3 separate regions of the Homo sapiens genome follow, and regions 1 and 3 are each linked to region 2. Evidence: fine-mapped expression QTL. A gene starts in region 2. Each other region holds a variant in brackets. All regions are shown on one strand. Distances are between the middles of the regions.

Region 1 (10,049 bases), 220 kb before region 2:
CTGAGGCAGGAGAATTGCTTGAACCCAGGAGGCGGAGGTTGCAGTGAGCCAAGATAGTGCCACTGCACTCCAGCCTGGGCAACACGGCGAGGCTCCATCTCAAACAAACAAACAAACAAACAAACAAACATGGTGAGGTGTAGATGGAGGTGGTGTGAGGTGTAAATGGAGGTGTGAGGTGTAGACAGAGATGATGAGGTTCATGTAGAGAGAGGTGGTGAGATGTATATGGTGGTATGGGGTATAGATGGAGGTTCTGAGGTATTGACGGTGGTGTAAGGTGGAGATGGTGAGGTGTATATGGAAGTGATCAGATGTAGATGGAAGTGTGAGGTGTAGATGGGGGGTGAAGTGTAGATGGAAATGTGATATGTGAATGGAGGTGGTGAGGTTTACATGGAAGTGATGAGATGTAGATGGAGGTGGTAAGTTGTAGACAGAGGTGTGAGGTGGAGATGGAGATGGTGAGGTAGTGTATGGTGGTGTGAAGTATAGATGGAGGTATGAGGTATACATGGTGATGAGGTGTGGACAAGGGTGGTGAGGTGTAGATGGTGATGGTGAGGTATAGAAGGAGGTGTGTGGCGTAGGTATAGGTGGTGAGAGATAGGTGAGGGTGGTGAGGTGTAGATGGTGGTCGTGAGGTGTAGATGGAGGTGGTGATATCTAGATGGAGGTAGCGAGGTCTAGATGGAGGTGTGTGATATAGGTGTAGGTGATGAGGTATAGGTGAGGGTGGTGAGGTGTAGATGGTGATGGTGATGTCTAGATGGAGGTGATGAGGTCTAGATGGAGGAGTGTGGTGTAGGTGTAGGTGGTGAGGTATAGGTGAGGGTGGTGAGGTCTAGATGGTGGTGAGGTCTAGATGGAGATGTGTGGTTTAGGTGTAGGTGGTGAGATACAGGTGAGGGTGGTGAGGTGTAGATGGTGGTGGTGAGGTCTAGATGGAGATGTGTGGTTTAGGTGTAGGTGGTGAGATATAGGTGAGGGTGGTGAGGTGTAGATGGTGGTGGTGAGGTCTAGATGGAGGTGGTGAGGTCTAGATGGAGGTGTATGGTGTAAGTGTAGGTGGTGAGGTATAGGTGAGGTTGGTGAGGTATAGATGGTGGTGGTGAGGTCTAGATGGAGGTGGTGATGTCAGATGGAGGTGGTGAGGTCTAGATGGGGGTGGTGAGGTCTAGATGGAGGTGTGTGGTTTAGGTGTAGGTGGTGAGGTATAGGTGAGGGTGGTGAGGTCTAGATGGTGGTGGCAGTGAGGTCTATATGGAGGTGCTGATGTCTACATGGAGGTGGTGAGGTCTAGATGGAGGCAGTGAGGTCTAGATGGAGGCGGTGAGGTCTAGATGGAGGTGTATGGTGTAGGTGTAGGTGGTGAGGTATAGGAGGTGGTGAGGTCTAGATGTGGGTGGTGAGGTCTAGATGGAGGTGTGTGGTTTAGGTGTAGGTGGTGAGTTATAGGTGAGGGTGGTGAGGTGTAGATGGTGGTGGTGAGGTCTAGATGGAGGTGGTGATGTCTAGAAGGAGGTGGTGAGGTCTAGATGGAGGTGTGTGGTTTAGGTGTAGGTGGTGAGGTATAGGTGAGGGTGGTGAGGTGTAGATGGTGATAGTGACGTATAGATGGTGGTGGTGAGGTGTAGATGGAGGAGGTGAGGTCTAGATGGACGTGGTGAGGTCTAAATGGAGGTAGTGAGGTCTAGATGGAGGTGTGTGGTTTAGGTGTGGGTGGTGAGGTATAGGTGAGGGTGGTGAGGTCTAGATGGTGGTGGTGAGGTCTAGATGGAGGTGGTAATGTCTAGATGGAGGTGGTGACGTCTAGATGGAGGTGTGTGGTTTAGGTGTAGGTGGTGAGGTATAGGTGAGGGTAGTGAGGTGTAGATGGTAGTGGTGAGGTGTGGATGAGGGTGTGATGTGTAGATAGAGGTGGCAAGGTGTAGATGGAGGATGTGGAGGCAGTGATAGTGATGAAGGAAGGAGTTAGAAGGCCTTGTGCATGAAGAAATAGAAGATTGTTGTTGCTATTATGCTGATAAATGTGGAAGAACCTGTCCTCCTTTGATTACACATGTGAAATGGTGAAATTTCACCATTAGGAGTCTGGAGACCCTTATTCTTTCAGAGCCATGGTACCTTTGGGAAATCACCTCTCTGGGCCTCAGTGTTCTTGGAGCAGAGTTTGCTCTATTAAATGGCATTTGTCAGGGGGAAATCTACCTCTCTCCCTCCAAGCACTTTTGCCTCACCTTATAAAGTGGGAACTTCTGTCCTTGCTGCAGCCTTGAGAAAAGTACTCTCCACTTACTGCTCTACCTCTAAACTCATGCTATCTAGCAGAGGATGAGTGGTTCGTGTGCTTGGAGAATTGGAGCACATAAAATGGGCATATGTCATGACTCAGGTTCTTCTGGATTTCCTCCTTCTGGGAACAGCCTCCTCAGAGAAGGCCTGTGCTTCCCTCCTCTCCTCTTCTTTTCAACCTGCCCTAGGAAGGGCAGGTTCTTGCGTTGTGGGATAGGGGAGTCTTCCAGTTCTGGGTAGATAAGTTTCATTCTGAGGGAAAGAATTAGGAAGCCCAACTGTACATTCAAAACCACATTCTCCAATCAGCTTTAGCTGTCATAAATTTATTTTAGTTCCAGCTGCTGGACTTCTATATCTTATTTCTCATTTGATTCTAAGCACAGAGGGGTTGTGAACAAGTCTCATTCTCAAAGTCCAGCACTGAAGAATTAGTAAAAGAGTCCACATAGACTGGGTTGGACTCAAGGATCTCTTAAGTTTCTTTGAAACTCTACTGCCCTACGATTCTATGTGTCTAAGTGAAATTATCGCTGAAGCAAAATAAACATACATTGACAGTTCTGGTCAGATGTTGGGACTCTTAATGGATAACTTCCCAAGCTCTGACTCCCTTCTTTCCTGCTTTTCAACTGCATGAAGACCTTTGATCTTCAGGCATCTTCCTCTTCTCCCCATATACCAGCTCCTCATGGCTTCATTTACTTCCCCTTCTGGTCTGGACATCATAATGAATCCTTTCCTCTCTTCTCTCATTGATACTCATAACCTCTTATTCCTGCCCTGCCAATCTCTTGGGCAAAATCAGTCCATTCGTTAACTTTTTCCTCCTGCACAAAGTACTCTTTTGTCTCTGGAAAAAGCCTGTCTTCAGTGGGAGAGAGAAAAGCCAATACACAGAATGGCAGAGGGGTGTCCATTTGTGTGTGTGTGTGTGTGTGTGCGTGTGTGTGCGCATGTATGTGCATGAAAGAGAGAGAGAGATGAGGAGGGAGAGAAAGACCTAGTCCTGTGATGTGTATGGCCAACCTCATCCCTGCCCTTCCCTGTGGTTTAGTTTTGTAAGCCAAAAAATGTTGAGAGAAGATATGGCTACCCCTTTTCTCTCTGCTCCCTGTCCTCTGGCCTCCTTCCATGTTACAGCCAAGGACATGCCAAGCCAGCCACTCAGCTGTGGCACTGAAGTAAATGCTTGGGGGATACTGTCAACTCTTCCTCACCACCAGAGTGGTAACAGCTGAGGCTCATGCACTGGTCTTGGGGAAAGGGAAAGAACTGGCCCCAGTGTTCCTCAGCCACAGGTGTCTTCCCCTGGGCACATCTGGCAATGTCTGGATCTATTTTGGTTATACTGGAGGGAAGGTCACTACTGGAGGGAGAGTACTTCTGGCCTCTAGTGGGTAGTGGTCAGAAATGCTGCTAACGTCCTACAAGGATGGCCCCCACAACAAAAAAATTATCTGACCCCAACTATCAATGGTGCCATGATCAAGAAATCCTGGATTAGGGCATTCAGTCTCTGGTTCTAGGCTCTCACTCAGGCAAAAGGAGCACTCAACATAGGCCCACCTCACTCGCCAGGGATCTGCCAGGAGAGGGAGCTAAAGATTCTTAGTACAGTTGGCCCTCTATATCCACAGGTTCCTAACCCAAGGAGTCAACAAACAGCAGATCAAAAATATTTGAAAAAATAAAAATAAATAACAATACAACAATAAAAAATAATACTCCCAAAATACAGTATAAAAAACTATTTACATAGCATTTACATTGTATTAGGTATTCGAAGTAATCTAGAGATGATTTAAGATAAACAGAGGATTGCATAGGTCACATTTTATGTGAAGGACTTGAGCATCTTCAGATTATGATATCTACGGGTGGTCCTGGCACCAATCCCTTGCAGATGCTGAGGGATGACTGTTTGACCTCTGTGCCTCCATTTTCTTCAGATACCTGGTGGACAGTGATGGCTGCTCACTGGGACGGATTCCCTTCCATCTCCTGGCTAAATGCCATCTGAACCCTACCTGGGTTTGACATCTGAAAGGATTTAGGTAGGTCTGACCTAGGACCATGGCATGGGGGCAAAATTCTTTGAAGAAAATAGCAGCTTCCTACCCTGGAAAGGCCTGCGGGACTTAGGCCCTTGTTAATGGGACTAAGGATTCATTTGGGGGCCCTGGCAGGCTTATCTAGAACCTTTACCCACAAGAAGTTCCCCACAGGCTGGGCAGTACTCACCACAGTATGTGCAATTTTTGGCTTCCAGATTGTTTGTGCCAAGCTTTGGCAGGTGGTACAATATTGGCTGCCCCAGATTCTTGTCTGCTTTAGCTGTTTCTGAACCATGTCCAGGGTTGAGAAGGGAACATACTGTGATGGTGTCAGCACTCTGCAGGAAGGTGAAAAAAGGTGAGAGATATGTTAAAGAGAAGCTGAGACATTGTAAGAGGCCAAGCCCAGGTGATGCTGTGGAGGAGTTCTCTTTCTTCACCACCCCTATCTACTTCCCAATCGCTGCTGTGGCCTATGGACTCGGCTCACTCTACAGCAGCCACGACGCAAGTCTTGCTGTTCCTCTAACACCCCAGGCTCATTCCCACCTCAGGACCTTTGCACTTACTGTTTCCCTAATCTTCAGCCTGACTTGCTACCTCGTGTATTCAACTATTTGGTCAAATGCCATCTACCCAAGAAAACCTTCCCTGACCAGCCCATCTAAAATGCCCCTCTCTGGTCATTAACTCTGCTTTATTTGTCTAAATGGCATTTCTATCCAAAACCACAGTATGTGTTTATTCATTTGTTCACTTTTTGTCTGTTCCTCCAATATGGCAGAAAGTTTGTCTTATTCACTGATGTATCTCTGATACCTAGAATAGAGCCTGGCTCATAAATGATTGGGTCCAAATCCTGACTCAACTAACTGTGGCATCTTGGACAACTTCTTTTTTTTTTCACTGCAATTTCCTCAACTGAAAAAAAATGCGAATAATAATTATATCTACCTCAATGGTTATCTGAATCAATGTGAAACCTTAGGTCAATGTCTGGCCCACAGGGAATAGTTAGTATTAACTAATAATATTATTATAATTATTACACCCTCAGGAAGAAGCTCACATGTGTATCCTGAGGAGGCGGGGAGGGGGATGAGCAGTATTCCTAGCAGCTTGCAGGAGCAGAGAGTCTTTTTTGCTTCTCCAGGAACCAAGTCCTGTTCTCCCGTCTTGCCTGCTCTCTGCTGCCCTCTGGAGGTCTGCAGTGGAGTCAGGCAGGGAGCTGATTCAGGGACGCCACAGATTATGTATCCTCCACTTCCTATGGGATAGCTGCTATCATTCCCATTTTACAGATGAGGAAACCACTTCTCACAGTTGTAAGTAACTTGCCCAAAGTCATGTGATCTCCTGCTCTTAATCACATGATGAAGAATGAGACATTGCTGGATGACAGTCTCTCTACTT[A/C]AGCAAGCTAGAGCCCACGGAGGCATCTTGGGCCTTGGCAGAGCTGCCACTGGAGCCATCATTTGGCACACACTATTGGGAATCATTGAGGCCACAGAGGAAATGTGGGTACCTAGGAACTCGTTCTTCAGACAGATCCCCAAATGGACCCAGAAACAGCATGCAGCCAAGCAAGGGCTGGCCCCTTCCTTCCCCTCTCCCCAGGCTGTACTTCCTTAGCCAAAGGACAGTTCTCTGATCACCTCAGCCAACCTGAGCTACCCTGGAAAGCTACTTCTCACCCTGTGCCCCTGTGCCTCTCTCTCAGAGCGTATGTCACTGGCTGGGCCAAATGATCTTCATGTCAACCTAAAATAAGAGGGCTATGGAAAGACATAGCCTCTAGAGACATCTGGGAGCTGATTAACTAATAAGAACCTGGAGACACCAGCACTGTCTGATCAAAAGATACAATGGAGGAAAAGATTTCATTTTCAATAAAAACAAAAACCCTAAAACATCTAGAAATAAACTCGCCTAGAAATGCATGTTTTATATGAGGACACGTGGCAAAACTTTGCTAAGAAACACATAATAAGACATCATATTTCTGGATGGGAAAACTGAATAGGGCAAATATGCTTAAGTTCAGACATTTATATATATTTTAAATACAATTCCAAGGGCATTTTGAATGAAAATGACCAAAAAATCATGGCTAAAGTATGAGCTTAGAATGTACTGAGTTTTTACTATGTGCTAGGCTCAGGGCTGACAGCTTTACATACCTTACCTCAATTAATCCTCACAGCAACCTCAAGAGGTCATTTCATTTATTTATTTATTTATTGTGGAGACAGCATTCTCACTCTGTCACCTAGGCTAGAGTGCAGTGGCACTATCACAGCTCACTACAGCCTTGACCTCCCAGGCTCAAGCGATTCTCCTGCCTCAGCCTCCCAAATATCTGGGACTATAGGCAGGTGCCACACCATACCAGGCTACTTTTTAATTTTTTGTAGAGATGAGGTCTCAATATGTTGCCCAGGCTGGTCTTGAACTCCTGGGCTCAAGCAATCCTCCCACCTCAGCCTCCCAAAGTGCTGGGATTACAGGAGTAAGCCACCACGCCTGGCTGAGGTCATTATTAATATTTATGAAAGACAGGTTGGGGAAGTGATTAAGAGCAGGAGATCACATGACTTTGGGCAAGTTACAACTGTGAGAAGTGGTTTCCTCATCTGTAAAATGGGAATGATAGCAGCTATCCCATAGGTTTATGATGAGTATTAAATGAGGTAACATACATGAAACATTGAGAGCAGTGCTTGGCAAGTAGAAGCACTGATATGAACTACTATTATCCTCATTTACAGACGAAAAAACTAAAGCTTAGAGAGGATAACATAATTTGCCCAAGTTCACACAGCTGATAACTGGCTGCCCTGGCCTGGGGGATGGGAATAGGGAGTCTTGCCTACAAGATCTGAAAAATTATAAAATCATAATAGTTAAAACAGGAAGCACATCTTGTATAAGATATTTTTATATGCCTTGCAAGATTATGTTCTGAAATATTAGCCAATGCCTTCTCCAGCCTGATACTCCCCTTACCTCTCTCCCTTCCCTGCCTCAAATAGCCAGGCCATTCTATGCTCATTGCTGCAGGGAAGGTGTGTGAAAACAGAAAGAAGAGGTAAGGAGCCTCTTTCCTTAGGGGAATAGAAGAGACTTCTGGCCTAGACCTAGACCAAAGTGTGGGAGAAAATGGTCATGAGAAAGATCAAGGCATTCCCTGCCCCTCACTCATATCCAAGAATAATTCCCCAGGGCAAGGACAAAGGCTGGAGGGAAGTTGAGAAACATTGACTTTGCTAGGTCCTGGAGGCTGAGGTCCCAATCCCCGCTCCCTGGACTGAGCCCCACAGAGAAAGCAGCATCCCTCACAATCTGTGGATCTGAGAGCAGGGAACAGAACAGCTGCTGGGTGTATCTAGGCCAAGAGGACCCCAGGCAAGCTCCCTGAGTGAGGCTGCTTGAAGAGGTGGAGAGAGACTTTGACCTCCACAATAACCTGCAGGCACCAACGACCCAGGACCAGATGGGACAAGGATAGATGACATGAAGGGCAGGACCCTTTGTAGGTCACTGAGAGTCTAGAACCCTGCACTCCACCCCACCCCAAACCCAAAATGGAAACTGCAAAGGAAACTCAGAACTGACTGGGATTAAGGGTCAGCACCTTTTTAAAGAGCGGGGCTCAAGTACAGATGAAGGAGAATTTTATAAACAAACTAATTTTTTTACACACTTGAGTTTATGGGCCGAAACTGGTATTCTAAAGGATAAAGTTTTAAGAAAATAGTGTTAGGGAAATGCACTGTTTAAAAAATCCATTTAGAAGAGAAGCTTGGGCAGCGGACAAAGGCAGCAACTTAAATCATTCGCAGGGCTCAGCACATATTATTGATCTCTGCTCCGAAATTAAATGTAATTGTTCCTTAAGATTGAGCTTGAATTTGCATCCCGATCTGCCTTGGACAGTAACTATCTGCCCCTGTTGTCTTGGCTTCATAATTAGTTGTGCTCCTTTCATTCTCAAAAGGGTCCCATTTTGAGCAGTAAATTATGTGGTTATTCTGCCTAAGATCTTTAAATGAGAGTGATCCCATGGGTGGGCTGACTCTGAACTAGGTATCGTGAAACAGAAAGTAAGGCTTTCCAGGCAGGTGTGGCTGGAGCCCAGTGGCGCCTGACATGGAGCCTCTGGAGGGCAGAGAACCTCAGCTGGATGGGAAAGGAAGGTAAGGTAAAGGGCAGGTGGGGCATCAAGAGAGGGTCAGGTGCTTGGTAGTTAATAGGACAGTGGCGAGATCAGAGTAGAATGTTTGAATTTAATATTTCAGAGATGGAGCAGCTAAGGATAATGGTGTGGCCCAGGTTTTGACCATAGGCATAGGAGGGAGAAATGGAGGCAAATGGAGGCCTGATTTTGTTTGGGGACAGGAACTGGGCACTGGGGAGACACATGGATGGGGGTTTGTCTCTACTCTTGTACTCTTCAAATTTTGAATCTTGTAACTGTGTTATTTTAAAAATCTACAAGTAAAATTAAAATGCAAATCAGCACCACAATGAAATACCATTTTTTACCTTTCAGATCGGCAGATATCAAGAAATTTTTCAACAGTGAGAGAGGAGGGCAATGGGCCCTCATACATCTACTTGCCAGTGAGATGCAGATAAGCACAGCCTCGATGCAGCCAGTTTGGCTGTATTTATATAACTTTAAAATGGACATACCTGGCCAGGTACAGTGGCTCACGCCTGTAATCCCAGCACTTTGGGAGGCTGAGGTGGGTGGATCACTTGAGGCCAGGAGTTCAAGACCAGTCTGGCCAACATGGTGAAACCCCATGTCTACTAAAAAAATACAAAAGTCAGCCAGGTGTAGTGGCTGTAGTCCCAGCTACTTGGGAAGCTAAGCCATGAGAACTGCTCGAACCCAGTAGGCAGAGGTTGTGGTGAGCCCAGATCGTGCCACTGCACTCCAGCCTAGGTGACAGAGCAAGACTCCATCTCAAAAAAATAAAAATAAAAATAAATAAATAAAATGGACATACCTTTTGGTAGCAGCAACTCTTTATCTGGAAGGTTATCTTACACTCCCACCTGTGGACAAAAACAGAGATGTGGTTTGGGACAGTTACTCACCTCCCTGTGCTTATGTCACAGTTGTAGTGAGAATTAAATATGATACATGGGAAGGATTTTAACAAGGGCCTGGCACATGGTAAGCATTCAGGAAATGCTGGCTGTTATCATCCGAGCATTGTTCACAGTGGCAAAACATTGGAAACAACCTGAATGTCCATGAATAAAGGACTGATTTTAAAAAAGAAAGAAAGAAAAACAAGTTTTGTCTCTACTTTGGAAAACGATGAACCTTTTAAATAGAATGAGGATATTCTTTAAATGGTGCTATGGAATGATTTTTTTAGAAATATTGTTAGGGGAGGGAGAGCATCAGGAAGAACAGCTAATATTTGCTGGGCTTAATATCTAGGTAATGGGATGATCTGTGCAGCAAACCACCATGGCATACATTTACCTATGTAACAAACCTGCACATCTGGCATATGTACCCCTGAACTTAAAATAAAAGTTGAAGAAAAAAATAAATAGATTTTTAAATTTTTAAAAAAGAAATATTGTTAAGTAGGAAAAAGGGAAAGTGTAGAAGAGTGCTTATGGCTGTCATCATGCCTGTGTAGAGGGTGCCTATGGGTACAGTATGGTCTCTCC
Region 2 (10,049 bases):
ATGGCTTTTTTATGGCTTCTAAATTATGTATCAAAACAAATGTAATAGGTAAACGTCACCTATACCTGGGTTGGAAAAGGCTGCTCTATCAGTAGGAAGCATAGGGAAGACCTGAACTGGTTTTAAGTGATGACAAGTTCAGTATAAGCAGTGGGAAGCTGCCGCAGTAGGAAGACAGTGTAATCCGAGCACGCTTCAGTCGGGGTTGAGGATTTCTACAGTAGCTGGCGGCATCAGACCCCATCTGAAGTAGTGTGCCCGCGGAAACCTATCCGGACATCAAGAGGCCTTTCAGCAATACTGATCTAGGGAACCACTGAAGAAAGGGAGGATTTTTGGCTCGCAAAATAGATTACAGTGAGAGGGTGTAAAGATTTCCAAATAAATGCCTGGCTGTCAATGGCAGTTTCTCAAAAAGATCAAAGTAGATGTTCCAGGGAAGGGAGACGTTAAGCACAGGCAGTTTCCAGGGTGATGCGTTTCCCTGGAAGCCGGACTGGACCCCAGGGCTCCAGCGCAGGTGGAGAGGTTGGGCCTCGCCAAAAGAGATCCTGGGAAACTTCCAGGACTTCCAGGAGCCCCGAGGGCTCGAGCGTTCACATACGCGCCCCGCCCCGGGGCGGCCCGGGCAGAGAGACTGGCGCGGTCTCTCCTGGCGCCCTTCGGCCATCGCGCGCCGCCGTCCCCGGGCCCCCGGACCCTGGGCGCCCAGCCTGCGCGGGACACACCCAGGCGCCGCCTCCCAGGGGCGGCCGCGTCCTTACTGAACTCGGAAATCGCTGGCCGGCAGCGCCAGCGCTGGAATCGCCCCCGCGCCTGGGAGTGGCCTCGCGAGGCCGGCGCGCGCCCCGGGGCCGAGGAATCCGCCTGCCCGCCCAGGCGTCGGCCACGAGAGAGCGGGAGCCTCGCTGGTCCCCATTTCAGGTACTCCCTTGGGGCACCTTTCGTGGTCCCACAAGATTTCCCAACTCTCCAGCTTTGCAACGGCCTCCATATTTTCCCGCGCGTCCCGACCCCCGGGTCCTCCCGTGCCCCGGACCTGCTCAGATGTCTCCCAAGGCTATTCATCAGGGAGCACCCCAATCCCGGCCTGCTCCGCCCGGCGCCCGCGGCCCCTCACCTGTAGAAGGCCGCGTTGACCCTCTTTTCGCTGGGGAAGCCCAGCATCCCGCAGACCACGTGGCTGTTGTGGGCGCTCCAGCCTTTGTCGCACACTTGCGACCAGCCGTCAGGAAGCCTGACTTCCACCAGCCCCTCCGTCACGGGCAGGGGTCGTCTGCCCCACCCAACGGCGGGTCGAATTCGCACCTCCTCCACTTGCAGGTGATGCTCTACCTGGGGGCGGGGCCACAAGCAGGGAAAGAATCCCAGTGGCACCTTTCATGTGTCCCGCCGCCCTTAAGGAACCCTGCTTGGTGTGCCTGCTGTAAACCCAGTGGCGGGATGGGCCCGAGGCGGCGCTGAGAGAGCGGCCACGATGGCCGCAGTCCGCGGTGTGGACTCTCTTGCAGCCAGCAGCGCGTGGGATGTGCTGTGCTCCCAGAGAGGATTCAGGGCACTAGGAAGGAGGCCCTCCCTGTGCCTGGAGCAGGAGGGAGCACTTCAAAAAGGAAATGGCTTTGAAGGAGGAGAAAGTCAGAAGGAAGATGTCTCAGGAAAGCAGGAACATTTGAGGAGAAGGAGAGCACCAGGTGCCCCAGGGGTGACTAGGGATGAAGCTGGAGAGGCTCATGCCAGGTTTAGCCCCTTGAATGTGAATGCTAAAAACCTGTTGGATTTTACAGCATCTGGGAGCTCTATCATTTGCTTTTCCAAGTCTCCCACCAATCCAAATGATCCCCCAGGGGTAACTACCTTCTAATGTCTCCGCTAACCACCCCACAGTACTCTCGGCTATCCTGGGTAGTGTGTGTGTGTATGTCTAGGAAATGCAGACCTCAATGACATTGGAGTCCGAGAAGCCAGGGAGGCGCTGGTCTTTGCAGATGACCCCAGCATCCTCATCGTGCGTACAGTCACTGTTCCCCCAGCCCCGGGAGGCACATTCAGTCACACTCTGCTCGGTCCCACTGCAGCTCAAGTTGTCCAGCCAGATGCGGCCTGTGGAAGGGGAGATGAAGGGACAGAGAAGCTTGGGGAGGGAGGATGGGGGAGTAATGGGGATGTAGGGAAGAGTGAGTGCTGAGGCCTCCCACTTGGCCATGATGATCCCATCTTTCTGGTATGATAAGGGGTGGAGACGGGACAGGGGACCCTGGCAGGGAATAGGAAGGGGGCATAAGATTGAGGGAAAATTGGTGTGATCTGGGGATACTCAAGAACCTGATACGGTGAATAAAAAACCAAGAATCAACCCTGAAGTTCTGATCAGTCTCTACCCATTCATTGATAGCTACAATTAATCAGGTACCTACTGTGTGCCAGGTGCTCTGCCATGGTGTGCACATATGTGATCATTCTTAGAACAGAGCTGCCAGAACACTGTTTTATATAAAGAAACTGGGGTTTAGAGAAGCTGAGCAACTTGCTTAAGACCATAAAGCCAATACGTGGGGGCTTAGGAGTTTGATCTATCTGTGAGGCTTGGATGTCTAAGATCCTTTCTTCACATCCTTGCATTCTCTCTTGTGCCCGCCCTGTCTGTGCTGCCATATAGCCCCTTGTTCTTCTCTCTGTCTGAAACCTGTTTTTTTTTTTTTTTTGAAACGAAGTCTTGCCCTGTTGCCTAGGCTGAAATGCAGTGGCATGATCTCAGCTCACTGCAACCTCTGTCTCCCAGGTTCAAGCAATTCTCCTGCCTTAGCCTCCCAAGTAGCTGGGGCTACAAGCATGTGCCACCATACCTGGCTAATTTTTGTATTTGTAGTAGAGACAGGGTTTCAACCATGTTGGCCAGGCTGGTCTCGAACTCCTGACCTCAGGTGATCCACCCACCTCAGCCTCCCAAAGTGCTGGGATTATAGGCGTGAGCCACTGAGCCCGGCCTGAACCCTGTGGAGTATCACTGGCTTCCTCTCAGAATTGGGCGCAGCCTCAAAGGTCATCTGTCCTAGCCAATGTTCAAGGACATCTCATTCACATCCCAACAGGACTTACCCAGTTGTTGCGGAGACACCTAGCTCCTGCCCCACCAGACTGTGTAACCATCAAAGTCCTTGTGACTCTTCATGACTTTCCCCTACCACATCTGATTCATTCCTTTGGTGCCAACCAGAAAAATCCTTCAGCCACACGACTGTCCTTCCCATATTTAAAAACAACCATTACGCCATTGCTATGCAAGGTTTTTACTTTCCATATCAATCCCCTGATTCTTCAGCAATTCCTCCTTGAAACTTGGCTTCTGAATCTTTCACATCTAGGCAGCTCTCCTCTGAAAGTATTTCCATTTTCTACTGTCCCTCTTAAAACACAGCATCTACAAATGACACTTAATTCCACAGGTGGTCTAGCCAGTGGGAACTGGGGAATCAGCTGCAGGTTGCACCTGCTTCTGTCCATCATTCCCACTGTGGGTTCATACCATGGGCACAGTCCTAGGCCTCACCTAGGGAACTGCTCTTAAGCCTCCACCACCCACACTCATACTTGTCCTAGATTTTATACTTGTCCTTAGACAGTACCACCTTGTTAGTTTTAGCTCTGGCCCATAACCTGATTTTGTTAGCTGCAGTGTCTGTGACCCCTTGTGACTTTGGGACATCCAGATATCATTTACCTGCTCTTAGCGTCCCATGAGACTAACTGTACTTTATTTGTACAGGGCTCACCTGTATCTGGGCTGTTTTGTGGATGGCTTTGTAGGATCATACTTTTGCAGCAGAAAAGAACTTAGACATCATCTAGTCATTTTGCATACAGGGCATCTGAGGCTCAGAGAAAGCACTGACTAGCCTAAGGTCACACAGCTCTGGGAAGTAACTATGTTGCTTGGTTTGTCATCCATGGATTTACTCAATGCTGGCTGTTCTTGGTGTCGTGTGTCCCTATGGCTGTGCCATCCTCGTGTTCCCTTTCCCTGCACTTTGGCCACACATAGGAAATATCTAGGATATGCCTGGATCATTGCTCACCTGTTCCAGGGCCATATTTGGCACTGTGGGTCCAGCCTGTGGCCTCTGTGAAGCCCAGCTCCCGGCAGAGGATGTGGGCAGCCTGCAGCGTGAAGTCATCATCGCAGATGGTGCCCCATTCACCAGCTCGCTGTATCTCCACGCGGCCCTCGTAGGGCTTCCTGGGGAAGCCAGCCAGCCGGAACCGAAGCCCCTGGCTCCCGGCCTTCTTCTCAGGGCCCGTGGAAGGGGACGGAGACCCCAAGCACGAACTGCACAGCAGGCACAGCAGCAGCCCCCAGGGGCTCCACTGCCAGACACTGACAGGTCGCATGGCAGGGAAGGCCTGGGTGCCCCAGAGACAAAGTGTGCGTGAGAGAAACAGATTGAGTGGGGCCCAGAGTCAGAAAGAGAGGGAGAAGTCACGAAAGAAAAACAGACACTGAGTAAGACAGAGACAGCGAGAGACAACAGGAGAGAAAGAGCCCCAGGGACCAAGAGACAGGGAGAGAAACACATTAAATAAGGGCTGAGGCACAGGTCATAGAGGCACAGCCTGAGAGACCCAGAGATAAGAGACAACTATGAGAGATCGAGAGTCAGAGAAGGGTCAATAAAAAGAGATAGAGACTGAGCAAGAGACACGTAGAGAGAGAGGAAGACCCAGACAGACAGGATGTGAGAGGAAGGGAGACTGTGGGAATGAGAGAGAGAAAACCAGAAAGACACAGAGGAGAGAGACAACGGATAGAAAGTGATAGGCAAAGAACTAAGCACTCAGTATAGGGGAACCAAGCACACCGCGGGTGAGAAGGAGAGGGATTGACAAGAGCCAAGGGGCGGACGTGGGAGGGATCCAGATGACCCCATTTACTCAGAGGGAGGACAGACAGCTGTACTGATTGTGCAGAGAGGCACGTAAGGGGCCCTAGGCGGCCCTGGGATCACAGATCCCCTGAATGGGAGCCCAGAGTCCTAACCCAGCAGATTCCCAGGCAGGGAAGGCTGGCACCAAAGCTCGCCTGGAGAACCTGCTGCACGCCCTCCCCAACACGCAGGCTCTCAGATGCCCTGCAGGGTCAAGAGGCCCAGGAGGGCCAGGCCTCAAGGCTGGGCGGGGGATGGGGTAGGGTTGTCCCAGCCTCCTGCCAACACCACCATCCCTGTCACCGGGCAACGGGAGGCCAGGCGCTATGGCTCCTCAGCCAAGGCCTTCTCTGCCTAGGGCTGAGAACAGCCCCTCTACAGCAAGCCCCCGTCAACATGCTTCCCCCAACCCAAACAATCAATCCAACAAGGCAGCTTTGTTCTGGGTTGGGGACCCAGGGGCAGCGCCTCCCGGAGGAGCCCCCTCCCTTAGGGCGCTCCTGGCGGCCCTGTTCGAACACCCGTAGCCCCCGCCTCCGGTATGTGCCTCCTCCGTGTACTCTGTCTCACTTGCCCTTTGACAAGAATCAAACTCTCAGTTGGGTGGCTTCCCCTCGACTCCATCCCACACCACCCGTTTTCCCTGGTCCCTCCACATCCTCTCCATCCCCTACTCATTCCCTCTGCGGTTAGCGTGACTCCCCCTACCTTGGCCGAGCAGGACCCTAAGGGCTGGGAGAAGAGTGCTGGTCCTGGAGATCAGTCCTAGGACTTCCAAAAAAAAAAAAAAATGCTCGGCCAGGGGAGACTGGACCCCCCTCTCTCCCCCTTCTCCGTTCGTCCCTCCCACATCCCCCTGAGCCCTCCCACATTCCGCCTTCTCCTTCCATTCCTCCCGGCCAGTTCCCTCCTCTCCTCCTCTGGGTCCTCCCTCCCCGTGGAGCTGGCCACTGCCGCGCCCCCTCCCCCTCCCTGGCCCTCCCGGCTCGTTCAATGAAGCTTTCTCTTCCCGCGGCATGGAGGCCAGGCCTCTGCGGTCAGGGAGCTGACATGCAAGCGGCGGCCGGGCGGCGGGGCGGCCCCGGTGGTGGCGGGAAGCGGTTCAACCCCAGCCCTCCCTCCGAGTCCCGGGCCAGCGGAGTCTAAACAGCCCGGCTCGGGCGGGGCTGGGGGCGGGCCCGGCCAGGGTAAATAAAGCCCCGGAGGCCCGTGTGGGTCTCTCCGGTGCCCGGGGCGCTTTCGGGGTGATGTCATGGCTTTCACTCTGACGTCACCTTGGGCATATGACGTCACGCGCAGCCACCACGCCCAGAGGCCAGGGCCCTCGCGCCAAAACCGAGGACTTTCGGTGGAGCCACTGGCGCGCCCCCACGACGGCGGGTAGGGGCCTGGGGTGCTGCAGCTCCCGGCTAATCCGGGGGTCTCCACCATTCCTTCTCGCTCCTCTCCCTCACCCCACCGCGACCCCCCCAGCGGCTGCCGGCGGGGGCCGGGGAGGGGCGGAAACTCCTCCAGGGAACCCGGCCCCGCCTCCCGCCCCGCCTCCCGCCGCAGGGCCAGGAAGCGCGGAAGGAACCGCCGGGGGCCATGGACGGAGCAGTGATGGAAGGGCCGCTTTTTTTGCAGAGTCAGCGCTTTGGGACCAAGGTAGTCTGGCGCATGGATGCCGAACCTTATCCGGGCTAGTAGTGGGTGAGAGAGCCCAGAAACAGGGAGAGGTGGGCAGCGGGCTGGAGAGCGGCGCCGGGAGTTGGAGAGCCTGTGACTTTCCCGTGAAGTTGCTTTGCACACTCCCGGGAAGCGTCTGTAGTCTAGGGGTTCTGGTCCTGGGGAGACGGAGTGGCATCGTCCTTGGGAAACTTCGCCCCCAACCCCGTTTGGAAGCCCCAGATCCCAAATCGACTTGCGCCGCAACCTCCTTCCCCGTCGGGACCCGGGCCGCCTGCGCACGCCACTCCCTCTCGAGCACTCTCTCTCTCTCCCTAGAGGTGGAGGAAGACCTGGGCCGTGCTCTACCCGGCCAGTCCCCACGGCGTAGCGCGGCTCGAGTTCTTTGACCATAAGGGGTCGAGCTCTGGGGGTGGCCGAGGGAGCTCGCGCCGCCTGGACTGCAAAGTGATCCGTCTGGCTGAGTGTGTGAGTGTGGCCCCCGTCACCGTGGAGACCCCCCCTGAGCCCGGCGCCACTGCCTTCCGCCTGGACACTGCTCAGCGCTCGCACCTGCTGGCGGCCGACGCGCCGTCCAGTGCAGCCTGGGTGCAGACGCTGTGCCGAAACGCCTTTCCGGTGAGGAGCTGCGGCGATGCGGGGTGGGGGCAGTTACAGAGGCAGAGAAATGGGGCTGCCTCAGACCGACCCCCGCTCCCCGCTGAGGAAATTACGGGTTTCTCGATGCTCTCTACTACAGAAAGGCAGCTGGACTCTGGCGCCTACCGATAACCCACCTAAGCTTTCTGCCCTGGAGATGCTGGAGAACTCCTTGTACAGCCCTACCTGGGAAGGTAGACGCCTCAGAAGCCCGGGCAGGGATGGAGTGAAGAGGAGGAGGGCCGAGGGCCTTTGGGAAGTGGGTGGATACCCAGGGGCCCATGGGGAAGTAAGAAGTAGGAAGGCCCTGAGATCTGGCTTCCGAGTGAGTGCTTGGACACTATGCTCATGAGTCCTCTGGGTCCCCACTGCTGCCCCCGTCCCTCCCCCGCAGCTGTCTAATCGTGTATGCCTTCCAGGATCCCAATTCTGGGTAACGGTGCAGAGGACTGAGGCCGCCGAGCGCTGTGGCCTGCATGGCTCCTACGTGCTGAGGGTGGAGGCTGAAAGGCTGACTCTCCTGACCGTGGGGGCCCAGAGTCAGATACTGGAGCCACTCCTGTCCTGGCCCTACACTCTGTTGCGTCGCTATGGCCGGGACAAGGTGCAGGGGCTGTCCGGGAGGGCTTCCTGGGTTGGGCAGCTGTGGGAGGGGTGGGGCAGGACAGAAAGTGGGAAGCTCTGACCTTTGGATCCCCCTTTCTTGCCTACCCGGTGACCCCGCGTCTGTTCGCAGGTGGTCTCTTCTTTGTAGATACCCTAACTAGTGCAGGCGTGTGACTCACTTCCTCTGATGGCTCCTGGTAATGTGTTTCCCCCTCTACCCTCCTTAGGTCATGTTCTCTTTCGAGGCCGGCCGCCGCTGCCCCTCAGGCCCTGGAACCTTCACCTTCCAGACGGCACAGGGAAATGACATCTTCCAGGCAGTTGAGACTGCCATCCACCGGCAGAAGGCCCAGGGAAAGGCCGGACAGGGGCACGATGTTCTCAGAGCTGACTCCCATGAAGGGGAGGTGGCAGAGGGGAAGTTGCCTTCCCCACCTGGCCCCCAAGAGCTCCTCGACAGTCCCCCAGCCCTGTATGCTGAGCCCTTAGACTCCCTGCGCATTGCTCCATGCCCTTCCCAGGACTCCCTATACTCAGACCCCTTGGACAGCACGTCTGCTCAGGCAGGAGAGGGAGTACAACGGAAGAAACCTCTCTATTGGGACTTGTATGAGCATGCGCAGCAGCAGTTGCTGAAGGCCAAGCTGACAGACCCCAAAGAGGATCCCATCTATGATGAACCTGAGGGCCTGGCCCCAGTCCCTCCCCAGGGCCTTTATGATCTGCCTCGGGAGCCCAAGGATGCATGGTGGTGCCAAGCTCGGGTGAAGGAGGAGGGCTATGAGCTCCCCTACAACCCTGCCACTGATGACTACGCTGTGCCACCCCCTCGGAGCACAAAGCCCCTCCTTGCTCCCAAGCCCCAGGGCCCAGCCTTCCCTGAACCTGGTACTGCAACTGGCAGTGGCATCAAAAGCCACAACTCAGCCCTGTACAGCCAGGTCCAGAAGAGCGGGGCCTCAGGGAGCTGGGACTGTGGGCTCTCTAGAGTAGGGACTGACAAGACTGGGGTCAAGTCAGAGGGCTCTACCTGAGAAGGACGGCAAGGCTGAGGTGGCTAAGGGGGACCATGGGGAGGTGGCACTAGGGATCAAAGAAGATGGTTAGAACCAGCAGAAGCCAGAGGGTGGGAGGGGCCATGCTGTGTGAGACCAGGGGACCAGAGGGATGGGAGAGTCAAGGGAAGGACAATCCCAGGAAGTCCTAAGAAGTGGGGCAGATGGCAGGGCTGAGGATGGGCTCTGCATCCCCCAAAGCCATCCCTTCCCTACTTCCCCAAATGAAGGGACGGCTGTGGGACCAGGTCTGTGGAAAGTGGTGCATGGTCAGAATGGGTGCAGTTTGAGGGGCCTGTGTGGAGGCCTCAGGGAGATGTTGGACTGTGCCTGGATCCTTACTCCTGCATTGTTCTTTGCCAGAGACCTATTTAAAAATTTTAAAATTCTCATTAAAGTCAGCTTGGGTTTAAGAAGTTTATGTGTGTGAAGAGAAAAAGAGGGGACACAGTGGTTGGGTTGGGTGTGGTGGGGATCAAGAGGAGAACCAGGAATGTGTTGAGAGTCACGGAGAGGCAAGGGGCCCAGGAAGGGAACAGAAGTGTGGCGGTTCAGTGCCTGGGGAGTCAAGTCAAGCTGCCCTGGGCTAGATGTGAGCTCTGTGGCCCTGGGTGATAACATCTGCAACCCTCAGTTTCCCCTGTGCCCCTCTGTAAAATGGAAAAGCTATAATGGGCTCTACCTCACAGGGCTTTTTGTATGAAATTAGATACATTATAAGTATTTAGTGTAATCTGAAGCACAGGGTGTTTTTTTAAAAGTTTTTATTATTTATGTAGAGATGGCGGGGGGGTCTCACAGTGTTGCTCAGGCTGGTCTCGAACTCCTGGCCTCAAGTGATCATCCCACCTCAGCCTCTCAAAGTGTTGGGATTACAGGTGTGAGCCACTGCTCCCAGCCCAGAGTAAACATTTTATAAATGGTAGCTATTATTCTGTGGATGGAGGGAGCAACAGGAAGGTTGGTACATGTGGGGAGAGGGTAACAGGAAAGGAGTAGGTCTTTTTTTACACCATCCTCTCCCCTGTTCTGGGCAGCCCTCCCACCCCCCAGCACACACACTTTGCATGTAGGTACCAAGCACTTGTCTCTTTGGAGGCTGAAGCCTGGTGGTGTAGTGGGAAGGGCACAGGCTCTGAAATGAGGCTTGGATTTCAATCTT
Region 3 (10,049 bases), 20 kb after region 2:
ATTTGCCAAATATTAGGGCTCCATGGGGCAAAAGGCAAAAACACTTAAGGAGAAAGCTTCCAAAAAGTAGAATGTTTTAGCAGACTTGGGAGCCAGTGATTAGAGGTGGGACCTTCCAAAGGGAGGGGATATACATAATACACCAGGCTTTCAGTGGAAAACTCTGGAGGGCCAGGAACAAACCCTGGATAGACTGAGCATTAGCAGGACTGCAGCCCAGCCTTGACTCAGCACAGTTTCTAGTGAAACAGGATGCTCAGCCACCACTCTGTCTGCCTAGTGTGGGAAGGGTGAGCCCTCTCTAGAGAAAGCTAACACCAGCTGGAGTCTCTACAATTTATTTATATATGTTATTGCCAGGTGTGACAAAAGACATGTGCCACATGTCTGAAAACCAAGAGAAAAAAGAGACAATAGAAACAAATCCATAAGTGATCCAGGTATTGGGGTTAGGTGACAAGAACCTTAAAATAACCATGATTAGTATATTTAAGAAATTAGATGAAAATATGGAGAATTTCTTCAGAGAATTAGAATCTACAAAAATGAAACAAATGGAAATTGTAGAACTGCTAACCAACCACTATGTGGAAATCATGTGTTAGACATGTGCTGGGTGCTTTACACACGCAATATTTAATCATCTTAAAAACCACATGAGGTATATTTTATTGTCTATATTTTATATGTGATGGGACAAGAGTTACTAATGTGTGTGTCATGCACCTTCTCCCTCACTCTACTTTTTTTTTTTTTTTTTTTTTGAGATGGAGTCTCACTCTATCACCCAGGCTGGAGTGCAGTGGCGCGATCTCGGCTCACTGCAACCTCTGCCTCTTGGGGTCAAGTGATTCTCGCGCCTCCCGAGTAGCTGGGACTACAGGCATGTGCCACCACCCCCAGCTAATTTTTGTATTTTTAGTAGAGATGAGGTTTCGCCATGTTGGCCAGGCTGGTCTTGAACTCCTAACCTCAGTTGATCTGCCCACCTCTGCCTCCCAAAGTGCTGGGATTACAGGTGTGAGTCACTGTGCCCAGCCCTCCCTCACTCTACTTCTATTGATTAAAGGAGAAGCCTTATCAGCTTTATTTCTTAGTATTTTAAATAGGTAGAAAGAGACAGGACCTGAGAGAGAGGAGGACTACATTATGTCAGAGAGGCTAAGTCAATTTATAATATATGGCTGAGAGAGGGAGGAAGAGGATTGAGAGAGAACAGGGACTGAGGAGGTAGAGATAATTTGTGTGTGTGTGTGTATGTGTGTGTGTGCATGCGTGTGTGTGTGTGTGTGTGTGTGTGAAAGGTTCTAGGAACAGCTTCAGGTTAGAGATAATTGAGGAGTGGGGGAAGAAAATTTGAGAAATGTCATTATGGGTTATGAACTAGATCCTTTTTGGTGTCCTTTGAATACACAAATCACTTTAAAATTTACTTTTGGGCCTCTGATAGTGCTTCCATATATGCCATTTGTGCAGAGACTAAGCCACGTAGGGGCCATTAAATTTGTTAGGGTTACAAATAGATGAATACACCAATACTTAGTGAGGGTAAGCAAGTTGCCTAAGTTCACACAGTCGGGAAATAAAAAAAGCGTCAGGAACCTAAGGCCGTCTGATTCCACAGTCCAGGATTTTCCTGGACAACACAAATTATATTTTACTACAACATATTAGAAAACTGCCTTGCCTTGACTCCTCCAAAAAGAGAAGTAAGAAAGGGGGGAATTTCTATTCTGGGCCTAAATTTGACCAAAGCCTAGGAATTGGTTAGTAAAGTGGGGAAGCGATAGAAAAGGCACTATGTCAATCTGGAGTTTGGGTAGTCAAATTATATCTGAGACTTTAATCTCAAACATAGGATCCTATATTTAAAAACCTATTTGAAATATGTTTTTCTCCAAAAAGAAACAGCATACAAATGTCTAATGACAAGTGGAAGAAACTAGAGAGCTCCCATTCAAGAAGTACCATTTGAGTTTGGTCTTTCAGGATAGGGTAGGATTTGAACACACAGAGATGAGAGAAAGGTCAACATGAGCAAAGGCTCAAAGGTGGAAAAATTTAAGGTTTCTGTATTAATTTGGTTGGAGTGTATGGTACATGAAGGGGAATAATGGGAGATAAGGTGGGACCTTGAATATTAGGCTAAGGAATATGGACTTTATGGATAAACAATAGTAAGCCACAAAGTATTTTTCAGCTGAGTAGTGGCAGAATCAGTGCTGAATCAGATTAATCAAAAGATTAATCTGTTGGCATTATGTGAAATGGACTAGGAATGGGAAGCACTAAAAAAGCATTGAGACAAGTTGAGAGATTATTGCAGTATTAAAGGAAAGGTTAAAAGGGCTTGAATTAGGATAGTGATAACAGATGCTATAGGGATAGAATAGGCAAGGTGTAATACGTGATTGAGTATTGATACATAGAAAAACATGTGATAGGGGAATGCTTCAAGGAGATTAAGCTAGTGCCAATGTGCAGGGAAAACCAGAAGAGAGAGAGATTGGAGGCAGGGAAGCCAGTTAGGAGTTTACTGAAGAAGTCTTGGTGAGACAAGCAGTGGGAACAGGAAGTAAAGGAGAGTTACAACTCATGTTATGAGTGGAAAATTGATATGACTTAGTGATGGAGTAGGTGTAAAGGGTGAGATGGCTGAAAGTGACTGAGGTTTCAAGCCTGGGTGACTAGACAATGGCGGTGCTGCTATTAACAGAAAGGCAGAAGTTAGAATGAGAAGTTGGCTGGAGGGGAACATTACAGTGAAAAACAGAAGGCAAGAGAGTTAAATATGGAGCTGACTTGAAATCAGATTTTAAAAGAACATATGAAAAAGGTATATGAAAGAATAAAAAACCAAAGATGGAGTTAAAGAAGCATGGCAAACTTGTAAAAATAGGCTTAGGAGGTTAAAACCCTAAATAAGTCTCGTCACACTTAAAAATATTTGTGTTGAATTAATGAGCTGAAGTTTGTGAAAAGTTTGTACTCTATAACATACTGCCATTCAGGATTTTTGCTGCTTGGAGAAAATGTCATGTGAAAAACAAGAAGGAAGAGGCATTTAAACACTGTTTTGCGGCCAGGCACGGTGGCTCACACCTGTAATCCCAACACTTTGGGAGGCTGAGGTGGGCAGATCAACTGAGGTTGGGAGTTTGCGACCAGCCTGACCAACATGGAGAAACCCCGTCTCTACTAAAAATAAAAAATTAGCCAGATGTGGTGGTGCATGCCTGTAATCCCAGCTACTCGGGAGGCTGAGGCAGGAAAATTGTTTGAACCCAGGAGGTGGAGGTTGTGATGAGCCAAGATTGTGCCATTGCACTCCAGGCCTGGGCAACAAGAGCGAAACTCCGTCTCAAAAAAAAAAAAAAAAAGAAAGAAAACTGTTTTGCTGCTGTCTTTTCCAGAATAGGAGAGTGGTCTTTAATCTAGATGAGGTGGACCAAACGGAGTAAAGAGAACAGCAGTACAAGATGAGTAAGCCGTTGTTATGAGTACTGTGCCATTTTAAGTGAGTTCAACTCCGCTGAAGTACAGAAGCATAGGGTGTAAGTGAAGGAGAATTAGCTTCAGTGTTATAGTCTGTATTTATCTGGCTACATCCAGAGTAGGGAATTTAGCAAAGAAGTTAAAAACATGGGCTTTGTAGTCAACAGAACTAGGTTCAAATTCTTTTTAAATTTTCTTTCTTTCCCACCCCCCCTAAGCAGTGTCTCCCTCTGTCGCCCAGAGTGCAGTGGTGCGATCATGGGTCACTGCAGCCTTGAACTCCTGGGCTCAGGCAAGCCTTCCACCTCAGACTCCCGAGTAGCTGGGACTACAGGTGTGAGTCATTGCTCCTGGCTAATTTCTTAATTTTTAATAGAGACAGGGTCTCACTCTGTTTCTCAGGCTAGTCTTGAATTCCTGGGCACAAGTGATCCTTCTGCCTTGGCCTCCTAAAGTGTTGGGATTACATGTGTGAGCTAGGTCCTCAAACTCTGACAAGACTACTTTGGTAGCTGTGTGACCTTAGGTAACTTACTTGGTCTTTTTAGGCCTCAGCCTCCTCCATCTGCAAAAGTTGGGATAACAATCTCTACTTCAGATTATTGTGAGGATTAAATGAGGTAAAGTATGCAAAACACTTGGTTAAGTGACTACCACTTAGTAAATGCTCCAAAATATGGGTATCTACTAGTGACAGGTCAACTACATCCCTGCCCTTTTCCAAGACAGAAGACTAACAAAGAAAAGGTCTCTTCATCTCTACAACAGTGCTTGGCATACAGTGGTGAGTAAATATTTGATAAATAAATAGACAGATAGATAAATACAGATCCTCAAACCCTGAGTTTAGTGGCAGGGAGACTCTAATCTCGTGTATGTAAGCCAGGATGGAAGGGAATACTTTTTCCCATCCTTATTATTACTATTTTTTTTTTGAGACAGAGTCTCACACTGTTGCCCAGGCTGGAGTGCAGTGGCACGATTTCGGCTCACTGCAACCTCCGCCTCCCAGGTTCAAGCGATTCTCCTGCCTCAGCCTCCCAAGTAGCTGGGATTACAGGCATCTGCCACCACGCCCAGCTAATTTTTTATTTTATTTTATTTTTAGTAGAGACAGGGCTTCATCATGTTGGCCAGGCTGGTCTCGAACACCTGACCTTGTGATCCACTCACTTCGGCCTCCCAAAGTGCTGGAATTACAGGTATGAGCCACCGTGCCCAGCCTATTATAACTATTTTTTGAGACAGGGTCTTGCTCTGTCGCCCAGGCTGGAGTGCAGTGGTGCGATCTTGGCTCACTGCAACCTCTGCCTCCCGGGTTCAAGTGATTCTCATGTCTCGGCCTCCTGAGTAGCTGGGATTAGAGGTGCGTGCCACTATGCCTGGCTAATTTTTGTATTTTTAGTAGCTGTGGGATTTCACCATGTTGGCCAGGCTGGTCTTGAACTCCTGGCCTCAAGTGATCCACCTGCCTTGGGCTCCCAAAGTGCTGGGATTACAGACGTGAGTCACCACACCAGGTTATAGTTCCTATAACTTTTCCCCTACTTAGGACATTTGAGTTGTTTCTAATTTTTCACCACTGTAAATAACACCGAGATGAACATGCTGGTACATATATCTTCATCCCTTTCCTGACTGTCTTCTTTGGCTACATTCCCAGCAAAAGGAAAGGGTATCATTTTCCGGAAAATTTACATCCTCTCTAGCAGTGTATTAAAATGTCAATGTATGTTTAAAATATCAAATACTGTAAGAATGTATTGAAGCCACCTGGGAGAAATTCCTCCCATGTGATGTATCATCTCAGATTCTGAGGAACTGGGTGGAGTAAATAGTAAACTGAGCTGTTGGGCACTAACAGTTACAACGGCTCCGTTGTCTCTGCTCTGCAAAGACAGGAGATGGGTGTTCTTCAGACAGGAAACAGGAA[C/T]TCAGTGGGTGGACCTAAAAGGGAGTGCGGGCTTCGAAACAGGAAAAAAAGAAGTCTGCTTCTGATAGTGAAAGAGATGCATTGCTGTGCTGTCCTGATCATCCTACTAAGTCAAACCTTTATTCTATATCTGTCCTTGCATTCTATTTGCAGTTGTTTTAATTTTGCTAAGTGTTGTGTTAGTTTCATGTGACTGCTTTTATTTTTTCCATTTCAGGGAATGACATCCATCTAGTTGTTCAAGTCAGAAACCATGCAGTTATTTGATACTTCCTCTTTCTCACTCCCTATATCCAATCTCTCAACCAAGTTCTGACAATCTTCTCTCTAAAATATTTCTACACTTGGTCATAGCTAAAAGGCCAAGAAGCGATTCTAAAATATTTCTCTAATTGGTTTGCTCATCTCATCTTGACTTCCAATGTTCTAGTTCAAACCACCACGGTCTCTTGACTAGTCTACTGCAATACCCTCCTAGCTCATTTTCATGTTTCCATTTTTGCTTCTGCGAGTTCATTTCCAAATTTCTGCCCAAGTAATATTTTAAAAACTGAAATAGATAATGTTATTTCTCATGATTTGTTTCCCTAAGTCCAAATCCTTAATTTGGCCTACAAAGCTTTGCATGATTTGACCCCTGCTCACCTCTCCAACCCTACCTTTTGTCACTCTCTCCCTTCCTCCCTGTTTCAGTCACAATGGCTTTTCTGTTCTTGATTTTTCTCTCAGCTCTTTCCAGCCTTAGGGTCTTTGCACATGCCTTTCCTTACACCTGGAATGCTCTGCCTGCCACCCTTCACCTGGTTAATTCTCACTTATCTTGTAGGTCTTAGTTTAAATGTCACTTCTATAGACAGGCTTTCTTATAGCAGCTTTTTCTTTTCCTTTATAAACTTCTCATAATTAAGAATATATACATTTCTGTTTCTTCCATTGGAGAGTGGGTTTCTTAAGGTCATAGGTAATGTCTTTTAGGTCACTACAGAATATATATCTAGGGCTTGACACAATGTCTGGCATAGACTAAATGCTCTTCATTTAAATGAACCATAACGTCTATCAGTGTTAGGAAGGAAGTAGGTTTTAAAATACAGGTACGTACGGAAAATTCCCTGTTGCCATTTAAATGTTAAGCTTGCCAATCGGGGATTTTCAAGTTTAGTGTTGTATAACTGAATTCAGGAATTATTCTCTATAGCATGAAACCAACAAAAGGCAAGTCATATTTACTCCAAATTTCAGAGTATTTCCAGTTTTTTCTGTCTTCTTGAGGGTTGAGGCAGATTTAGGATTGGGCAGAGTTAGTTAGCTGCTTTTCTGTGGTTGGTACTTTAAAAACGATTCTTCTTTTTCACCTGGGGACATGGGTACTCACCAGCAGGCTGTGACACAAAGCATGGAAATGTTGCTGATTTGTCTCCAGCTCATCCCAGTCCAGCTGCCAACAGCTTGTAGGTCTGAGGATGAACGGGAGTCCATATGTCAATGACTCGCAGAGCCCGCTAGATTTTAAAGCCCTAGGAAGAGATAATTACAGTCAAAGACTCCTTAGTGATATCTAGAACCTCCACCTAGATCCACTTCAATTCAGCTTAACTCTAAGACAGTACTGTGAAAGCTTTTAAATTAGTGTCTGTGAACTATGCATCTTTGTATGGCCAGCATCTAGCATAGTATCTAGCACACAGAAGATTGTCAAAGTTCAGGAACCTGTGCATGGGCACAGTGGTAGGAACTGGGAAGAGTTGAAGCAGACTCTGCCATTATTGCTAATTCATTGTGTTTTTTTGTTTTGTTTTGTTTTTCTTTCAAGATAAGGGCTTGCTCTGTTACCTAGGCTGGAGTGCAGTGGTTCAATTAACTCACTGCAGCCTTGAACTCTTGGGCTCAAGCGATCCTCCTGCCTCAGCTTCCCAGAGTGGCTGGGATTACAGGCATGAGCCACCGTGCCTAGTCTGCTAATTCTATCCTACAATTGGTTCTCCTGGAAGAAGGAATTCTAGTACTTAGAGAAATGGGAGGGGGCAGGGGTAGATCCTATGTACCACTTACTCCTTGAAGGTTGGATCTCTGTCTTGATGCCTAAACAAAGTAGCTATTCAATAAACATTTACTAAATGGATAAACACCTTTTTAATGAGTCAAAAGAAAAACAATCCTCATGCAGACCTCAGAGTGTTCTACTGCAGCGCTTCTCCCACCATCTGCACATTTGGCCTCCACATGCTGAGTAGCCTGTCTTTGCTTCCTCATGCCATAGCTGTAACTGCTACTTCGGAACTGACTCTTGCCTGCCTGACACTTAAGAGATACCATCTATCTCTGGAGTTCCTAGCCACAGAACCACTAAGAATAGCATTTGCATGGATTGGGGAGGTTCCCTTGGACCATACTTGATCACTTGGAGCTTGTAATGAGAGGCCGATGACTGGGAAGCCATCTGGTAGAGTGTGATGAAGTCTCCTTTAGGGTCATCCATTCTCAAGGAGCCGTCAGCTGTGCCAGCGAGTAGGGATGGGCAGAGCAGTCGCTCTTGGAGATCACATTTCAGACACACTACAATAAAAGGAGATTACATTTCAGACACACTACAATTGGAGGAAGGATTGTGGGTAATAAGTTACCTTAGGCTATGCCATTAAGAGACAACATCTGCTACCCATTCCATCTCTACCAGGCAAGCAAGGGATAGGAGGAGGCAGGAGAGTGGAAAGAGGAAAGCCTGACTGGTTTGGAAAGGGAGAACAGGTCTGGAAGCTATAGTATCTCTATCGCTCTACATAAAAGTTAACTTATCTTCAAGAGTCTGACATGATCTTTACTTGTTTTACTTCTGGGCTGGCTGAGCAGTTGTCTCATAGTGAGACATCTGGCTTGTGATCCAGTCTGAGGAACATGTATCCTCTGTGGAGGAGGTAGCTAATGCCAAAATATGCAGAGGCCCTTTGGCAATCACAGAAGGAAATCTTGCTTCTGCTGCTTCCTTGTGGCTAAGCTTTGGCAACAGTGCAGGTCAGATGAAGGAAGAGCAGTAAAGCAGAAGTCAGGCAGTCAGATGACTGCTACTGTTTCTCTGTGGGCTCGTTCAGGGACATTCAGAGTGGGGGGAAAGGAATAAGTTCCTGAAATAGCTTATTTTTTAATTCCCCAAAGAAACATGAATTTAGGACCTTCTGGGCCTTGGAGCATCACAGTGGCATCAGACAACAGTTCTGAGGAATGCTTAGGCTAGGTAGGAGTTACTCATCTAGGTATTTTACTCTTCTGCATTAAGCTTCTGCTCCAGTAGGTAACTGCATATGCCATAGTGTATGATGATCTGTTACACAAGCTTAAATCCTTGATATTACAAAGTTCTTCAATAAAACGTATACCTGGCTTGAATAGTGATAACAAACTTGTGAATATACAAATGTTGAGTACTTCTGAGAAGGCTGGTAGTTGATGCTAGTGACTTGTGAAATGACTGTACTAACTGCAATATGAGGTAAAAAACAACATAGAAAAAAATAGAGTGGCAGAACAGATGTTAGATCCAGCTGGCCCTCCTGGGCCCTGTGAATAAGACCTAGACATTAGGTCTTATCACATTAGACATTGTGAATAAGACATTCATTCTGGGTGAGACGGCCCTCAGCCTGACATGTCCCAGAGCACAGGAAGTCAGTAGGAGGGACTTTGCCTAGGACTCCAGCTTCCTCTTATTTCCTCTGTGCCTGACTTCTCCATTTCCGGTCCTGAGGCTTTAGGACTGGACAGCTGTGTTCATCTGGCAGAGGTTTTCAATTCTGGTTGCAGTAAGAATCATCTAGGGCAGCAATCCTCAATCATTTTGGCATTAGCGACTGGTTTCATAAAAGACAATTTTTCCATGGGGTGGTGGGGGATGGTACTGTTCCACCTCAGATCATCAGGCATTAGTTAGATTCTCATAAGGAGTGCACAACCTAGATCCCTTGCATGTGTAGTTCACAATAGGGTTTGGGCTTCTATGAGAATCTAATGACATAGCCGATCTGACAGGAGGCGGAGCTCAGATGGTAATGCTTGCTCACCTGCTGCTCACCTCCTGCTGATCCAGTTCCTAACAGGCCACAGGGGTTGGGGACCCCGATCTAGGAAACTTGAAAAAGATACTGATGTCTGGGCCCTACCCCAGACCAACTGAATCAGGGTCTCTGGGGGTGAAGCCCAGACACTGGTATTTTATTATACTTTAAGTTTTGGGGTGCATGTGCACAATGTGCAGGTTTGTTACATATGTATACATGTGCCATGTTGGTTTGCTGCACCCATTAACTCGTCATTTACATGAGGTATTTCTCCTAATGCTATCCCTCCCCCAAACCCCCACCCCATGACAGGCCCCGGTGTATGATGTTCCCCACCCTGAGACACTGGTATTTTTTATAAGTTCCCCATGTGATTCTTACTGCAGCCTGGGTTAAGAAATACCCAAACTGTGGTCTCAGCAGAGTGTCCCAAAGCTGGGAAAGCTGTTTTAGCTGGGCTTGAATCTAGAACCAGGTGTGCTTCTCCCACCCAGAGCCCAGATGCAGATGTGGCAGACACCATACCTAAGAACAAGAAAAGAAACTCATGTGTAACTCACTGTGTGCTC

Which allele goes with the higher level. Positions count from the first base shown, and alleles are read on the strand shown. Sizes are in standard deviations (SD) of each study's normalised expression. Not every link is listed here.
As copies of T replace C in region 3, the expression in whole blood of the gene that starts at base 5,694 in region 2 goes down (large effect, 1.0 SD a copy in Lepik 2017).

Evidence for each region. PIP is the estimated chance that this variant, and not a neighbour inherited with it, causes the effect.
Region 1: its variant is fine-mapped to the expression of LOXL3 in whole blood (INTERVAL, PIP above 0.99).
Region 3: its variant is fine-mapped to the expression of LOXL3 in whole blood (TOPMed, PIP above 0.99).

What each region holds. Positions count from the first base shown.
Region 1 is chr2:74,329,488-74,339,536 of GRCh38, forward strand. It overlaps SLC4A5 (solute carrier family 4 member 5), which reads right to left. Exons shown (of 31, transcript NM_133478.3): 3 at 9,368-9,416; 4 at 4,540-4,690. Among named protein-coding and RNA genes, the nearest start is that of SLC4A5, 8.9 kb to the right of the region's middle. RefSeq lists a silencer at 3,868-3,957 and an enhancer at 5,460-5,649. The variant A/C (reference allele first, on the strand shown) is at 5,766.
Region 2 is chr2:74,548,249-74,558,297 of GRCh38, forward strand. It overlaps LOXL3 (lysyl oxidase like 3), which reads right to left and starts at 5,694. Exons shown (of 14, transcript NM_032603.5): 1 at 5,628-5,694; 2 at 4,074-4,398; 3 at 1,937-2,100; 4 at 1,121-1,335. The coding sequence starts at 4,386. DOK1 (docking protein 1) reads left to right here and starts at 6,472. Exons shown (of 5, transcript NM_001381.5): 1 at 6,472-6,566; 2 at 6,906-7,205; 3 at 7,327-7,420; 4 at 7,646-7,830; 5 at 8,060-9,303. The coding sequence starts at 6,507. The coding sequence ends at 8,866. M1AP (meiosis 1 associated protein) reads right to left here. Exons shown (of 11, transcript NM_001321739.2): 11 at 9,635-10,049. RefSeq lists silencers at 529-848, 4,514-4,808, 4,794-5,088, 5,814-6,563 and enhancers at 4,794-5,088, 6,572-7,089, 6,714-6,773.
Region 3 is chr2:74,568,635-74,578,683 of GRCh38, forward strand. It overlaps M1AP (meiosis 1 associated protein), which reads right to left. Exons shown (of 11, transcript NM_001321739.2): 6 at 7,822-7,984; 7 at 6,804-6,945. Among named protein-coding and RNA genes, the nearest start is that of DOK1, 19 kb to the left of the region's middle. RefSeq lists enhancers at 2,513-2,612, 3,610-3,819, 8,851-9,030, 9,850-9,949. The variant C/T (reference allele first, on the strand shown) is at 5,429.